Linked DNA regions of Homo sapiens: region 2 is linked to region 1. The links come from fine-mapping of genetic effects on gene expression. A gene starts in region 1. The other region holds a variant in brackets. All regions are shown on one strand. Distances are between the middles of the regions.

The links.
Region 2: its variant is fine-mapped to the expression of GTF3C2 in whole blood (TOPMed, PIP above 0.99).

What each region holds. Positions count from the first base shown.
Region 1 is chr2:27,353,200-27,361,486 of GRCh38, forward strand. GTF3C2 (general transcription factor IIIC subunit 2) reads right to left here and starts at 3,565. Exons shown (of 19, transcript NM_001035521.3): 1 at 3,540-3,565. GTF3C2-AS2 (GTF3C2 antisense RNA 2) reads left to right here and starts at 3,566. Exons shown (of 4, transcript NR_183827.1): 1 at 3,566-3,657; 2 at 4,609-4,703; 3 at 5,686-6,261. RefSeq lists enhancers at 2,959-3,572, 3,086-3,365, 3,416-3,755, 3,573-4,186, 3,766-3,895 and 1 more.
Region 2 is chr2:27,436,672-27,444,996 of GRCh38, forward strand. It overlaps NRBP1 (nuclear receptor binding protein 1), which reads left to right. Exons shown (of 18, transcript NM_013392.4): 8 at 82-165; 9 at 376-434; 10 at 591-689; 11 at 3,095-3,227; 12 at 3,732-3,837; 13 at 3,981-4,031; 14 at 4,134-4,269; 15 at 4,456-4,509; 16 at 4,596-4,659; 17 at 4,896-4,951; 18 at 5,037-5,588. The coding sequence ends at 5,141. It overlaps KRTCAP3 (keratinocyte associated protein 3), which reads left to right and starts at 5,710. Exons shown (of 7, transcript NM_173853.4): 1 at 5,710-5,769; 2 at 5,908-6,092; 3 at 6,171-6,230; 4 at 6,403-6,609; 5 at 6,727-6,861; 6 at 7,278-7,390; 7 at 7,515-7,626. The coding sequence starts at 5,742. The coding sequence ends at 7,385. IFT172 (intraflagellar transport 172) reads right to left here. Exons shown (of 48, transcript NM_015662.3): 48 at 7,706-7,850. The coding sequence ends at 7,761. RefSeq lists an enhancer at 5,845-6,387. The variant G/A (reference allele first, on the strand shown) is at 3,788.

The DNA.
Region 1 (8,287 bases):
CTGGCCAACATGGTGAAACCTCGTTTCTACTAAAAATACAAAAATTAGCTGGGTGTGGCGGCACACCCCTGTAATCCCAGCTACTCAGGAGGCTGAGGCAGGAGAATTGCTTGCAGGAGGTTGCAGTGAGCCAAGATTGCACCACTGCACTCCAGCCTGGCGACAGAGCTAGACTCCGTCTCAAAAAAAAAAAAAAAAGGAGCAAACAACCATCTATGGTTCAACTTAGTTTTTTAGTTTTTTGTTTTTGTTTTTTTGAGACAGAGTCACGCTCTGTCTCCCAGGCTGGAGCGCAGGGGCATGCTCTCTGCTCACCGCTGCCTCCGCCTCTGGGGTTCAAGTGATTCTTCTGCCTCAGCCTCCTGAGTAGCTGGGATTACAGGCATGTGCCACCATGCCCAGCTAAGTTTTGTACTTTTAGTAGAGATGGGATTTCACCATGTTGGCCAGGCTGGTCTCAAACTCCCAACCTCAGGTGATCCACCCACCTCGGCCTCCCAATCAACTTAGTTTTAATAGAAACAATAACTCTTTCATATTAAAATTTATTTCCCCTGTCACCCAGGCTGGAATGCAGTAGTGCGATGATCATGGCTCACTGCACCTTGACCTCCTGGGCCCAAGTGCTCCTCCCCATCTCAGCCTCTCAGGTCACTGGGACCACATGCACACACCAGCAGGCCTAGCTAATTTTTATTTTTTTTGTAGAGACAGGGTCTCAACTATCTTACTCAGACTGGTCTCAAATTCCTGGGCTCAAGTGATCCTCTAGCTTCAACTTCCAAAGTGCTAGGATTACAGGTTTGAGTCACCACACCCAGCCTATAACGTATGTATAAAGACAAAGCAAAACATTAAAAAAAAAAAAAAAAAGGGTGGGAGCCTGGACAACATAACAAAATCCTGTCTCAACAACAACAACAAAAATGTTTAATTAGCTGGGTGTGGTGGCAAATACCTGTAGCTCTAGCTATTCGAGAGGCTGAGGCAGGAGGATCGCCTGAGCCCAGGAGTTCAAGGTTACAGTGAGCTGTGATCATGCCACTCGACTCCAGCCTGGGTGACAGAGCAAGATCTTGTCTCAAAAAAAGTGGGAACCAATACAATGACTCTTGGCAAGCATTCAACTCAACTAGTGGAAGCAGACTGACCACGTCTACAGGAGAAAAACCTTCAAGCTTCAAGCATTTAGAGAGGAAATAAGAGTATGTCAGTTAACATAAGGAGCTAAATGGAAATCAGTTAAGAGAGCTTCTATACAAGTCTTAAGGATTTTCTAGGCCAAGTGCTGTGACTCACGCCTGTAATCCCAGCACTTTGGGAGGCCAAGGCAGATGGATCACTTGAGGTCAGGAGACTAGCCTGGCCAACATGGTGAAACCCCATCTCTACTAAAAATATAAAAATTAGCCCGGCGTGGTGGCAGGCGCCTGTAATCCCATCTACTCGGGAGGCTGAGACAGGAGAATCACTTGAACCCAAGAGGCAGAGGGAGAGGTTGCAGTGAGCCGATATCACGCCACTGCACTCCAGCCTGAGTGACAGAGGAAGATTCCGGTTTTTTTTAAAGGATTTTCTACATCAGTATACATATATTTATCTCATTCTTCCTAATTGCTGCATGGCATTCCATAGAATTAGTTATTTAGACAATCTTCATTTAATGAACAAATGAGTTAAAATACTATTTCAAAAAATACTGCAATAAATATTCTAGTACAAATCTCTTCATTAATTCATCAATAAATTATTTTTCTCGAATAATCATCTGAACATGGAATTACTGTACTACACTGAAGAACATGCACATTTCAAAATTTGATACTACCAAACGGCTCACCAAAATTAAAACTATTTATGTATATTAGTACCCATTTTATCATACCGTTACTGATCTTTTTAATTTTCGCCAATCTGATAGGTGAAAGAATTCTTCCCCACTCTATTTATTTGCACTGATAATAATTGGTGTCAGCAACTTCTTTCTATATATTGGACATCCATATGACTTTTATGAATTGCCTGTACATATAATTTGCCTGGCCGGGCACGGTGGCTCACGCCTGTAATCCCAGCACTTTAGGAGGCCGAGGTGGGCGGATAACGAGGTCACAAGTTCGAGACCAGCCTGACCAACATGGTAAAACCCCGTCTCTACTAAAAATACAAAAGTAGCCGGGCATGGTGGCACGCGCCTGTAATTCCAGCTACTCAGGAGGCTGAGGCAGGAGAATCGCTTGAACCCGGGAGGCGGAGGTTGCAGTGAGCCGAGATCACGCCACTGCACTCCAGCCTGGGCAACAAGAACAAAACTCCGTATCAAAAAAAAAAAAAATACACTTCTCATGGAAGGCAGCAGCAGGATGTAATGGTACAAATTCTGGATACACAGTAAAGGAATAGATGATCAGTAAATTCGTACTGAGTTTCTAAAACCTTCCATTGCACCCCAATCTGTCTGGTTCCCATGCTGCTCCAGGATGCCAGCTTGACCTCCCCAGCCAAGAAAAAATAATGACACAACACTGCACCTTAAGTATGAAATTACTTTGAATACACTGCTTAGCTTAATATATTGTTTCCTAAAGTGTTCCTAGGGTACAACTGGCGGTATGCAAGATGATTTTAATGGTACGAAAACGAACATTTTAATGACTAGTGCTTTTATTTCAACTTACATAAACAATTATAAGTAGCCCATGAAACCCACGGTTTCATTTATATTGCTTAGGTCGAGACTAATGCATTTAAACTTTTTAAGTAAGTCAATTTAAAGAGAACTATTCAGAAAACAATAGTACAATTGATAAGAGATTGCAAAAATAGTGATGGCACGGGATTGACTTAAAATTGTATATGCCTCTGGAACAAAGAGGTTTGTCCATACCCTATACATCCCTCCAACAAAGTGAGTTGCCTCCGACGGAGTTGAAGTCGCCACCTCTGACTTCCCCAACAGGCAGCCAACTTGCCACGGGACAAAAGGACTAGACAGGGAAACACAACTGGCCCTTGGTTACGCCAATGGCGTTGCAGCGCGCGGGGCACAACCCTCGGGGTTAAAGAGCCTCCTCGAGGAAGAGGCTGGGACACAGCTGAAAGAGATTGACCCACAACCACTCTAGGGGCCATCACCTGCCCTTCTTCAGTCCTGGGCGTGAAGGTAGATTTCTCCCCTAGCCTGTGCGGGAGAGGAGCCCTGGTTTTTCTAACAAGGACTACTGTAGGTTCGCCGAGTTCGAGGGACGCTACGTATGCAGCGCCTACGCCCGGACACAGGCTTCCGCGTTACCGACACCGCGTGGGGGAGGAGGGCAAGACCCGAGGCTTGCAGAGATGGGGGGTGCACGGTGGCCACAGTAGGGAAGGTGCGGAGCATGATGGTGCTCTGTAGGAGCGCAGACGCTGAAAGGCGCGCTGCTGTGGCTGGGAGAAGAGCGGAGCCAGGAGTTTGTTCCCAATATCTTAGTGCTATGGCAAAAGAAGGGGGAGGAGTAATTGTGGGGCCCCCCACACACCCGCTGCGGCGATACACTCACCCTCGCCAAAGTCCTTCCGGAAGTCTAAGTTCGAAGATGGCGCCGCCTGTCTGGTCGCGGTCTTATGACGAAATCTTGTTAGCTGCTCTTCACTGACGCCCCCACCCCAGTGCACAAGGTAAACACGTGTGCTTGGTCCGGAGTCGGTGCCGGGCTAGTTTTCTCTTAGACTCTGTATTCCATAATGCAGCGCGGCCAGAGTCACCGAGCCCTCCGAAGCCAGCCGAGTTCCAGGGCGTCTTCAGCGGCGCCAGGGACGCTGCAGGGCCTCATGGGAGTTGCAGTGTCAAAAAGGGGAGATCGACGCCTGCGCGGCCAACGGGATCCCACGCGGCCTCGACGGGAGCCGGGAGTAGGCGGACTCCCAGGCCGGGCTCGCGCTCTGGATCCCTGAATCCGGCCTTTCCGGCCGGACTGCCGCGCCTGTGGCCGGAAGAGCCAGCTAGACCAGAGAGTCTGTACCTGCAACCCTGGCGGCGTCCGAGCCCAAGGCGGAGTCTGGGAGACAAAGAAGTCCTCGCCGCCGGCCGCTGGAGGATTCTGCCAGTAGTGAAGTCAGGGATGGGCCCGAGAGAGCTTGGAAAGAGGACAAGGAAGGGAAGGAGTAGGAGTAGAAAAGCATGACTTTGGCTGGGTATGGTAGCTCCTGTCTGTAATCCCAGCACTTTGGGAGGCCAAGGCGGGGGAGGATCACTTGAGCCCAGGAATTCGATACCAGCCTGGGCAACATAGTGAGACCCCGTTTTTATTTTTATTTTTATTTTTTCCTGAGATGGAGTCTTGCTCTGTCCCCAGGCTGGAGTGCAGTGGCGCGATCTCGGCTCACTGCAAACTCCGCCTCCCGGGTTCAAGCAATTGTCCTGCCTCAGCCTCCCGAGTAGCTGAGATTACAGGCGCCCGCCACCAAGCCCGGATAATTTTTGTCTTTTTAGTAGAGAAGGGGTTTCACTATGTTGGCCAGGCTGGTCTCGAACTCCTGACCTTGTGATACGCCTGCCTCAGCCTCCCAAAGTGCTGGGATTACAGGCATGAGCCACCGCGCCCGGCCTAATTTTTTAATTTTTTCTAGAGATGGGGTCTCGTTATGTTGACCAGGCTGGTCTTGAACACCTGACCTGAAGTGATCCTCTTGCCTCAGCCTCCCATAGTGCTGCGATCACAGGTGTAAGTCACTGAGTTTGGCCATTATTCCATTTCTGTACACAAAAACCTTTCTCATTCTGTGCTATAACTAGTTAGCATTTAATTGGGTGGATGTGGTATAACTAGTGCCTTGTTGATATTGATGCATATTTACATGGTTTTGCTGTTATAAACAATGGTCCCTTGCTATTATAAATCACACTGCTATAAGTAACCTTGCATCTAAATTACTTCAAATGTGTAACTATATGGGTAGGATAATTTCTAGAAGTGGAATTGTGAACCAAAGTTTTAGGTGCATTTGTAATTTTGATTTATAACCAATCTTTTCACTGATCTACTTCTCTGCCTCTAATTTCTACTAGGTGTTTGTTTGTTTGTTTGTTTGTTTTGAGACAGGGTCTTGCTCTGTCACCCAGGCTGGAGGACAGTGGTGCAATCACGGCTCACTGCAGCCTCAACCTGCCACCTCAGCCTCCTGAATAGTTGGGGTGTGTGGCAGGTGTATACCACCACTTCCAGGTTTTTTTGTTGTTGTTGTTTAATAGAGATGAGGTCTTGCTATATTGCCCAGGCAGGTCTCACACTACTGAGCGCAAGCGATCCTCCTGCCTATGCCTCCCAAAGTGCTGGGATTACAGGTGTGAGTTGCCATGCCTGGCCCGGTTATCTTTCTAAAGCATAAAGCAACCCTGTTGATCCTCTGCTTAATTTTGATGATTAAGTAGTATGTTCAAAATATAGAAATCCATGTATTGATAATGATCTTTTAAAAAAAGTAAAAGCCAAAATATCAGCTACTCATCCTACACCATTGAAAGTAGTGACCATTAAACTGCTCTACCTCTACCTCCACCTCTCTACCTCTCTACCTCTCTACCTCTACCTCTACCCACGGTCTCCCTCTCTTTCCATGGTCTCCCTCTCATGTGGAGCCGAAGCTGGACTGTACTGCTGCCATCTCGGCTCACTGCAACCTCCCTGCCTGATTCTCCTGCCTCAGCCTGCCGAGTGCCTGCGATTGCAGGCACGCGCTGCCACGCCTGACTGGTTTTGGTGGAGACGGGGTTTCGCTGTGTTGGCCGGGCCGGTCTCCAGCCCCTAACCGCGAGTGATCCGCCAGCCTCGGCCTCCCGAGGTGCCGGGATTGCAGACGGAGTCTCGTTCACTCAGTGCTCAATGGTGCCCAGGCTGGAGTGCAGTGGCGTGATCTCGGCTCGCTACAACCTACACCTCCCAGCCGCCTGCCTTGGCCTCCCAAAGTGCCGAGATTGCAGCCTCTGCCCAGCCGCCACCCCGTCTGGGAAGTGAGGAGTGTCTCTGCCTGGCCGCCCATCGTCTGGGATGTGAGGAGCCCCTCTGCCTGGCTGCCCAGTCTGGAAAGTGAGGAGCGTCTCCGCCCGGCCGCCATCCCATCTAGGAAGTGAGGAGTGCCTCTTCCCAGCCGCCATCACATCTAGGAAGTGAGGAGCGTCTCTGCCCGGCCGCCCATCGTCTGAGATGTGGGGAGCGCCTCTGCCCCGCCGCCCCATCTGGGATGTGAGGAGCGCCTCTGCCCGGCCGCGACCCCGTCTGGGAGGTGAGGAGCGTCTCTGCCCGGCCGCCCCGTCTGAGAAGTGAGGAGCCACCCCATCTGGGAAGTGAGGAGCATCTCCGCCCGGCAGCCACCCCGTCCGGGAGGGAGGTGGGGGGTCAGCCCCCCGCCCGGCCAGCCGCCCCGTCCGGGAGGGAGGTGGGGGGGTCAGCCCCCTGCCCGGCCAGCCGCCCCGTCCGGGAGGTGAGGGGCGCCTCTGCCCGGCCGCCCCTACTGGGAAGTGAGGAGCCCCTCTGCCCGGCCACCACCCCGTCTGGGAGGTGTGCCCAACAGCTCATTGAGAACGGGCCAGGATGACAATGGCGGCTTTGTGGAATAGAAAGGCGGGAAAGGTGGGGAAAAGATTGAGAAATCGGATGGTTGCCGTGTCTCTGTAGAAAGAAGTAGACATGGGAGACTTTTCATTTTGTTCTGCACTAAGAAAAATTCTTCTGCCTTGGGATCCTGTTGATCTGTGACCTTACCCCCAACCCTGTGCTCTCTGAAACATGTGCTGTGTCCACTCAGGGTTAAATGGATTAAGGGCGGTGCAAGATGTGCTTTGTTAAACAGATGCTTGAAGGCAGCATGCTCGTTAAGAGTCATCACCAATCCCTAATCTCAAGTAATCAGGGACACAAACACTGCGGAAGGCCGCAGGGTCCTCTGCCTAGGAAAACCAGAGACCTTTGTTCACTTGTTTATCTGCTGACCTTCCCTCCACTGTTGTCCCATGACCCTGCCAAATCCCCCTCTGTGAGAAACACCCAAGAATTAGCAATAAAAAAATAAATTAAAAAATAAAAAAATAAAAAAATAAAAAAAACTCATTAAGCTCTAAAAAAAAAAAAAAAAAAGAAAGAAAAAAAGAAAGTAGTGACCAATTCCTGAAAATTGGCAAAAAAAAAAAAAAGGCAAGAGTAAGGCATTTATCTTGTCTTTCCAGTATGAACTCTAGTTCAAAATAACTGATGAGAGGAAGGTTTTGTTTGTTTTTTGAGACTGAGTCTCACTCTGTCGCCCAGGCTGGAGTGCAGTGGCGCGATCTCGGCTCACTGCAACCTCTGCCTCCCAGGTTCAAGCAATTCTTGTGCCTCAGCCTCCTGAGTAGCTGGGATTACAGGCGCCCGCCACCACTCCCGGCTAATTTTTGTATTTTTTTAGTAGAGACGGGGTTTCACCATGTTGGCGAGGCTGGTCTTGAACTCCTGACCTCAGGTGATCCGCACACCTAAGCCTCCCAACGTGCTGGGATTACGGGTGTGAGCCATTGCCCAGCCCGGGATTTTTTTTTTTTTTTATAGATTAACAGCTAGTAATTGTGCAAAGAATGATAGAAAAAAATCACTATTTTGCATGTCCCAGTGAAATAATTCAGGCAACAATCACCAGTGGATGAAATCCCTAAAGAGCTTTTAGGAAGCTTTAAAATGCCTGGACCCACTCATCACTGAACATGAAACCACCAGTCATTGTTTGCCTCCTGATGTGAGGCAATATAAAGCACACAGAACCACTTATTAAACATTCTTGCCCAAAAAATTGAATAGGAATACAGGACTTAGGGGCCAGGCGTGGTGGCTCACACCTGTAATCCCAGCACTTTGGGAGGCCAAGGAGGGCGGATAATCTGAGGTCAGGAGTTCAAGACCAGCCTGGCCAATGTGGTGAAACCCTGTCTCTACTAAAAATACAAAAGAAAATTAGCTGGATGTGGTGACGCACACCTGTAGTCCCAGCTACTCGGGAGGCTAAGGCAGGAGAATCACTTGAACCTGGGAGGCAGAGGTTGCAGTGAGCTGAAATCGTGCCATTGCACTCCAGCCTGGGCAACAGAGCAAGACTCCATCTCAAATAAAAAAAAAAGAAATACAGGACATAGGGAATGAGTGAAATGACAACATAAGAAAGCAAACAGTCAAATCTAGAATGCAGAACATTTCATATGACAATCAACATGGCTTCTGTAAGCCAATGTCAATGTAAAAAGGGGATAGGAGACTGCTCTTTTTTTTTTTTTTTTGTTTGTTTG
Region 2 (8,325 bases), 83 kb after region 1:
TTGGCTTTTGGGGCCTCTCTCTGGAGTGAGACTATTCTTCATTGATGATGGTCAGATTGTGGGTGTCTCCCCTACTCCCAGTGGCTCCTGACACTATCAACAATCATGTGAAGACTTGTCGAGAAGAGCAGAAGAATCTACACTTCTTTGCACCAGAGTATGGAGGTGAGCCTTCCTGCTTTCTCTGCCCTGTCCTCATCCCCCTGCTTTTGCACCTTATAACTTGAGGTACAGAGGCAATATAACTGAAACTTCTAGGCCTTCTCTACCAGCATACAAAATATTTTTCTTTTCTTTTTTTTTTTTCCTAAGGCATTCCTGCCAACCCTAGCCCCCAATCCTCTGATTAACCAAAGCCTTCTCTGTTTTCCCTAGAAGTCACTAATGTGACAACAGCAGTGGACATCTACTCCTTTGGCATGTGTGCACTGGAGGTGAGGGGACTGGAGGGGAGGGGGGAAAGGGGTCAGATGAGAAGATGGAATTGGGAATGGAGGGAAGACAAGTAAGGCGCTGGCTTGGAGGGAGTGATTGTGGGAGCACTGAAGTTCTTAGGTGTCTACTTTTTTTTTTATTCTTCCTCACTGAAGATGGCAGTGCTGGAGATTCAGGGCAATGGAGAGTCCTCATATGTGCCACAGGAAGCCATCAGCAGTGCCATCCAGCTTCTAGAAGACCCATTACAGAGGGTAAGGATCTTCAGGATCACTCCCTCCTCAACTGACCTTCAAATGTCTTCTGGTTTTTCTTCCTTTGTACCCACTGGGTATATGCTCCTAAGAGCTAGGGAACATAACAGAAAGGACACGAAAAATCTATAAACATTTTCTTAGGAGGTGCCTACCATGTTTTTGCATAGAAACACACAGGTAAGGGGGTTAAGATGGATGATGCTGGGGTTAAAAGTTGTGTGTTGGAAGCCGGGCATGGTGGCTCACGCCTGTAATCCCAGCACTTTGGGAGGCCGAGGCGGGCGGATCACGAGGTCAGGGGATCGAGACCATCCTGGCTAACATGGTGAAACCCTGTCTCTACTAAAAATACAAAAAAAATTAGCCAGGCTTGGTGGCGGGAGCCTGTAGTCCCAGCTACTCAGGAGGCTGAGGCAGGAGAATGGCATGAACCCGGGAGGCAAAGCTTGCAGTGAGCTGAGATCGCGCCACTGCACTCCAGCCTGGGCGACACAGGTAGACTCCGTCTCAGAAAAAAAGAAAAAAAAAAAAGTTGTGTGTTGGCTGGGTGCAGTGGCTCACACCTGTAATCCCAGCACTTTGAGAGGCTGAGGCGGGTGGATCACTTGAGGTCAGGAGTTTGAGACCAGCCTGGCCAACATGGTGAAACCCTGTCTCTACTAAAAATACAAAAATTAGCTGGGCATGGTGGTGTGTGCCTGTAGTCTCACCTACTCGGGAGGCTGAGGCAAGCTTGAACCCGGGAGGCGGAGATTGCAGTGAGCTGAGATTGGGCCACTGCACTCCAGCTGGGGCAAGAGAGCGAGACTGTCTCAAAAAAAAAAAAAAAGTATGTTAATTTGAATGTGTCTACATGGAGGTAAATTAATTTGATGGTTACTTCAGGCCATTGCTGTATACTCTCAGACAGCCATTTTTATATTTTTAAGCACATCAGTCAATTTAAATTAAACCAGTTGTTTGGGATTTTATATTTATACAGTTTTAGTTAGGGACGGTGGCCTGAAATAATGAGCTAAGATTTAAAAGACATAAGGTTATGAATCAGTTGATAGACTATAGTAAGCAGAGCCTGGGCAGGAAGGTCCAAACAAGAACAGTTTGTAACTCATTAGATAAGTATAGTAGGGAACAGGAGAGAAAAGAAGACTAGTGGGAAGTCAGGAGGATAGTGTGGAGTAAGTTTCTACTTCAACATTGAGGTGGAGTATTCAAGTGAAAGATTAGGTATGTGACCTTGTTAGCCTTCAAGGTTAAAAGCAGGAAAGCAGGTTAATTGTCATGGGACATGCAGGAGGTAGAAAAGGAGGCGGTGGTGGAACATGGTGGCTCATACTTTTAATCCCAGCACTTTTGGAGGCTGAGGTGGGAGGATCACTTGAGCTCAGGAGTTCGAGACTAGCCTGGGCAACGTGGTAAAACCCTATCTCTATGAAAAAATAAAAATTATCTGGGTATGGTGGCACATGCCTGTGGTCCCAGCTACTCTGGAAGCTGAAGTGGGAGGATTGCTTGAGCCCAGGAGGTTGAGGCAGCAGTGAGCTGTGATTGTGCCACTGTACTCCAGCCTGGTTGGCACAGCAAGACCCTGTCTCAGAAAAAAGAAAGAAAGAAAATAAGGCAGAATCGTTAGAGGAATCCTGGGAAATTCGGTGAATTCAGTGATTGTGGGCAAAGGAAATTGTGATACTAGGCTTGTGAAATAAAAAAATGGTGAATATTGATCACATTGGGTAAGTTTGGGAAGAGAGAAGCTAAATTTGGCAAGATTTAGAAAAGAAGATAGGCAGTGAGTTGACTAATAAAGCAGAGAGGTAGAAACTAAGGAAAAAGAAAGTGTGGGGCCGGGCGCGGTGTCTCATGCCTGTAATACCGGCACTTTGGGAGGCTGAGGCGGGTGGATCACGAGGTCAGGAGATTGAGACCATCCTGGCTAACATGGTGAAACCGTCTCTACTGAAAATACAAAAAATTAGCCGGGCATGGTGGTGGGCACCTGTAGTCCCAGCTACTCGGGAGGCTGAGGCAGGAGAATGGCGTGAACCCGGTAGGCAGAGGTTGCAGTGAGCTGAGATTGCGCCACTGCACTCCAGCCTGGGCGACAGAGCGAGACTCCGTCTCAAAAAAAAAAAAAAAAAAAATTGTGAACATTAAAAAAGAAAGCTTGTGGTTGGAGAGCAGAAAAATAATTAAAACCAGAAAGGCAGTGGATGGTATCTTTCATATAATATCTTACAGTTTTTGAAGCCCTTTCAGGTGCATTTTTCAATATATTGTTTTCTCAGCAAGTGCTGAGCACCTACTATGTACAAAGCCTTGTGCTAAGTAGAATGAGAGCTATAAAGATGAACACACTGGGGGCTTGCCAGATGCCTGCTCCAGTTCCTTGTTTCCTTTTCTAGGAGTTCATTCAAAAGTGCCTGCAGTCTGAGCCTGCTCGCAGACCAACAGCCAGAGAACTTCTGTTCCACCCAGCATTGTTTGAAGTGCCCTCGCTCAAACTCCTTGCGGCCCACTGCATTGTGGGACACCAACGTGAGTCGTCTTGGCCCTATGGGGAATAGTCTTCCAATCTGGAGCCCTGTAACTATCACTGGCATGCTTGTTTTCCTCTTTATTTCCAAAGGGATTCTTTTTTTTTTTTTTTTTTTTTTTTTTTTTTTTTTTTGAGACAGAGTCTCACTCTCTCTCAGGCTGGAGTGCAATGGCTTGATCTCAGCTCATTGCAACCTCCAGCTCCCAGGCTCAAGCGATTCTTGTGCCTTAGCCTCCCGAAGAGCTGGGATTACAGGCATGTGCCACCATGCCTGGGTAATTTTTGTACTTTTAGTAGAGATGGGGTTTCGCCATGTTGGCCAGGCTGGTCTTGAACTGGCGTCAAGTGATCTGTCCGCCTCGGCTTCCCAAAGTGCTGGGATTACAGGCATGAGCCACTGTGCCAGGCCTCCAAAGGGATTCTTTACCCCTTTGCCTGCATGCCTTCTTTGACATTTAATCTGACTATCCCTTCATAATATCCCACTCCATCATGCCCTCCAGACATGATCCCAGAGAACGCTCTAGAGGAGATCACCAAAAACATGGATACTAGTGCC[G/A]TACTGGCTGAAATCCCTGCAGGACCAGGAAGAGAACCAGTTCAGACTTTGTGAGTAACTGAGAGGGTCTGAAAGGGGCAGATTGGTCACGACCACTCTTGAGGCTCTGTAAACTGTCCATTCTCTGGGAATGCTTGAATTTGCTATTTTGCTTGTTTCTTTCCTTCCATCTCCTTTCTCTTTTCTCGTCCAGGTACTCTCAGTCACCAGCTCTGGAATTAGATAAATTCCTTGAAGATGTCAGGTGAGAGCAGAGTGAGAAGCAGGCTTTCTTGAGGAAGCAGGCGGGGTTGGGTATCCTAAGGCGTTCACAGAGCCCATGTGACCTGTCTTCATCTCCCTCCAGGAATGGGATCTATCCTCTGACAGCCTTTGGGCTGCCTCGGCCCCAGCAGCCACAGCAGGAGGAGGTGACATCACCTGTCGTGCCCCCCTCTGTCAAGACTCCGACACCTGAACCAGCTGAGGTGGAGACTCGCAAGGTGGGGGCTGTGTGGGTGTGGATTGTCTCCATGGTTGTGGTGGAAGGGAGAGAGGACATCTCAAATAAGGCTCTATCCTTTAGAGAAAATGCTCCCTAGCAGCCATGCCCTATGGGCTCGAAAGACGTCTAGGTATTGGGTTTTTTATGGACAGGTCTCTAGAGTGACCCTCTCTTCCCTCCCTAGGTGGTGCTGATGCAGTGCAACATTGAGTCGGTGGAGGAGGGAGTCAAACACCACGTAAGGCTCAGGGCTAGGGTTGCGCAGGGCTAGTAGCCAGAGGGTAGGGAAGAAAAGTCTCATTTTCTGACTGTCCTATTCTCCAGCTGACACTTCTGCTGAAGTTGGAGGACAAACTGAACCGGCACCTGAGCTGTGACCTGATGCCAAGTGAGTCTCTCCTTTCCCTCAGAGGATGGAGAGTCTATGAGCCTTATCTTTTAGGGACATATTCAGGGGTGGGGGAGGTGACAAGGCAGTAACACATTGACTCACATAGAATGACTATCTTAGACCCTAAAGCAGTGGGTGGATCTGACTGACAGTTTAGCCCTAGTGGGGCTGTCTGAAGGGCCCCAGGTCCCTCAGTCCCGTACTGTACTCACCCCCTCCTGTTTCTTTGTCAGATGAGAATATCCCCGAGTTGGCGGCTGAGCTGGTGCAGCTGGGCTTCATTAGTGAGGTGAGGTTTCTGCCTTCATCTGCCCTGGCTGCCCCCATGCCTTCTCTTCTCTCAGCCCCCATCTTACTGAGCTCTTCTCCCCCAGGCTGACCAGAGCCGGTTGACTTCTCTGCTAGAAGAGACCTTGAACAAGTTCAATTTTGCCAGGAACAGTACCCTCAACTCAGCCGCTGTCACCGTCTCCTCTTAGAGCTCACTCGGGCCAGGCCCTGATCTGCGCTGTGGCTGTCCCTGGACGTGCTGCAGCCCTCCTGTCCCTTCCCCCCAGTCAGTATTACCCTGTGAAGCCCCTTCCCTCCTTTATTATTCAGGAGGGCTGGGGGGGCTCCCTGGTTCTGAGCATCATCCTTTCCCCTCCCCTCTCTTCCTCCCCTCTGCACTTTGTTTACTTGTTTTGCACAGACGTGGGCCTGGGCCTTCTCAGCAGCCGCCTTCTAGTTGGGGGCTAGTCGCTGATCTGCCGGCTCCCGCCCAGCCTGTGTGGAAAGGAGGCCCACGGGCACTAGGGGAGCCGAATTCTACAATCCCGCTGGGGCGGCCGGGGCGGGAGAGAAAGGTGGTGCTGCAGTGGTGGCCCTGGGGGGCCATTCGATTCGCCTCAGTTGCTGCTGTAATAAAAGTCTACTTTTTGCTAAAAGCGTCGTGTGTTCGCGCCTTTCCCGCCAGGGGGAGCGGGCCCGGGGCGGAGGCGGGGCCCAGGTGGGAGGGGGACCCGGGACGGAGGCGGGGCCCAGGTTGGGGCGGGGCCGGGCCCAGGTACAGCGGCCCTGCGGCTGGCGCGGCGGACGGGATGAGGCGCTGCAGTCTCTGCGCTTTCGGTAACTTCCGGGCCCTGGCGTCTCGTCTCCTTACCCTGGGGCTACCCTTGCCCCGTCCTACTGCCCGCGGTTAACCCGCCGCGAGCCGCCTCTCCCCTCCCCGCCCGACTCAACCCTGCCCTCCCCCGTGCTTTGCAGACGCCGCCCGGGGGCCCAGGCGGCTGATGCGTGTGGGCCTCGCGCTGATCTTGGTGGGCCACGTGAACCTGCTGCTGGGGGCCGTGCTGCATGGCACCGTCCTGCGGCACGTGGCCAATCCCCGCGGCGCTGTCACGCCGGAGTACACCGTAGCCAATGTCATCTCTGTCGGCTCGGGGCTGCTGGTGAGCGCGGCAGGCGACCCGGGCGGGGGCCGGGCTCCCGGAGAGCCCAGCAGGCCAAAGGCTTTGTGTCTTCCACAGAGCGTTTCCGTGGGACTTGTGGCCCTCCTGGCGTCCAGGAACCTTCTTCGCCCTCCACTGGTGAGAGGGACTTCCCTGGAGCTTTTAACGAGTAGGCTTGAGTCAGGGAAATGGGGGCTGACTGAGCTTGGTCTTTCAATAGATTGGAGGAGCCTCAGAGAAACTGGGTGTCTAGTCACTGGGAGAGTTAGCCAGGCCCAGGCTGCTCACCCTGATCTCCTGTCCCTGCCAGCACTGGGTCCTGCTGGCACTAGCTCTGGTGAACCTGCTCTTGTCCGTTGCCTGCTCCCTGGGCCTCCTTCTTGCTGTGTCACTCACTGTGGCCAACGGTGGCCGCCGCCTTATTGCTGACTGCCACCCAGGACTGCTGGATCCTCTGGTACCACTGGATGAGGGGCCGGGACATACTGACTGCCCCTTTGACCCCACAAGAATCTATGTGAGCACATTCTCTTCCTTCTTGTGGTCTACAAAGCCTTGGTCCTGCCCTTTTAATTTCCCCTATTTGCTGCACTTGCCCTACTCCCTCCTACTCCCCATCCTTCTTGCTTTTCAGGATACAGCCTTGGCTCTCTGGATCCCTTCTTTGCTCATGTCTGCAGGGGAGGCTGCTCTATCTGGTTACTGCTGTGTGGCTGCACTCACTCTACGTGGAGTTGGGCCCTGCAGGAAGGACGGACTTCAGGGGCAGGTAAGGAAGGCAAACAGGAAGGGTTCATTCCACAGAGACTGGCTGTGTTGAAAAGATGCTGACCGGCCGGGTGCGGAGGCTCACACCTGTAATCCCAGCACTTTGGGAGGCTGAGGCAGGCGGATCACTTGAGGTCAGGAGTTTGAGACCAGCTTGGACAACATGGTGAAACCTCGTCTCTACTAAAAATACAAAAAATTAGGTGGGGTGGTGGGCGCCTGTAATCCCAGCTACTTGGAAGGCTGAGGCAGGAGAATCGCTTGAACCCGGAAGGCGGAGGTTGCAGTGAACCGAGATCACGCCACTGCACTCCAGCCTGGGCAACAGAGTGAGGCTCCGTCACAAAAAACAAAACAAAAAAAAGATGCTGACCTATCATTCAGGGCGAGGGTGTCTAACTCTATCTTCTTCTGCAGCTAGAGGAAATGACAGAGCTTGAATCTCCTAAATGTAAAAGGCAGGAAAATGAGCAGCTACTGGATCAAAATCAAGAAATCCGGGCATCACAGAGAAGTTGGGTTTAGGACAGGTAATGGGCCTTGAAGGTGGTGGCCCGGGTAAGAGCGGGGACAAGGAAGTGCTCTTAGAACTGGGTCTAGGTCTTGCCATGCTGCTTTCCCCTCTGACCTGGGTTGGTTCTCCCCTCTGTCCAGCAGGTGCTGTTCCGAGACTCAGTCCTAAAGGGTTTTTTTTCCCACTAAGCAAGGGGCCCTGACCTCGGGATGAGATAACAAATTGTAATAAAGTAACTTCTCTTTTCTTCTACTTGATTATGATTCCTTTTGGGGAAAAGGCACTGTGTGGTGTTGGGAATGACTTTGATCAAAGAATACAGTGGTCTCAATTATTTATAAAACTTTAATGAGGGAGAGGCCCTAACTCTTCCTCAGCTCTACCAACTACTGAAAGGAAAAGCTGGTGCTGGGGAGCCCTCCACACCACTGACTGATGAATTTCAGCACGTCCTGGCACACTGGGCTGTGGGAGGTCTGTGAGCAAATGGAAGAACATGAGAGGAACTTGTTAATGCTGGAAATACAAAATCAGCTCCATCGCAGGCTTCAGGGTCTGCATCTGCCTTCCTGTAATCCCACCCATCTTTCTAGTGTGTATGTGGGTTTTTTGTTTGTTTTGAGACAAAGTCTTGCTTTGTCGCCCAGGCTGGAGTGCAGTGGCACAATCTCAGCTCACTGCAACCTCTGCCTCTCGGGTTTAAGCGATTCTCCTGCCTCAGCCTCCTGAGTAGCTGGGATTACAGGTGCACGCCACCAGACCCGGCTAACTTTTGTATTTTTAGTAGAGACGAGGTTTTAACCATGTTGGCCAGGCTGGTCTCAAACTCCTGACCTCAGGTGATCCGCCCACCTTGGCCTCCCAAAGTGCTGGGATTAAAGGTATGAGCCACTGCACCCAGACTTGTTTTTTTTTCTTTTTTTAGTGCTGCCCTCTCTGCCTTCATTCTCC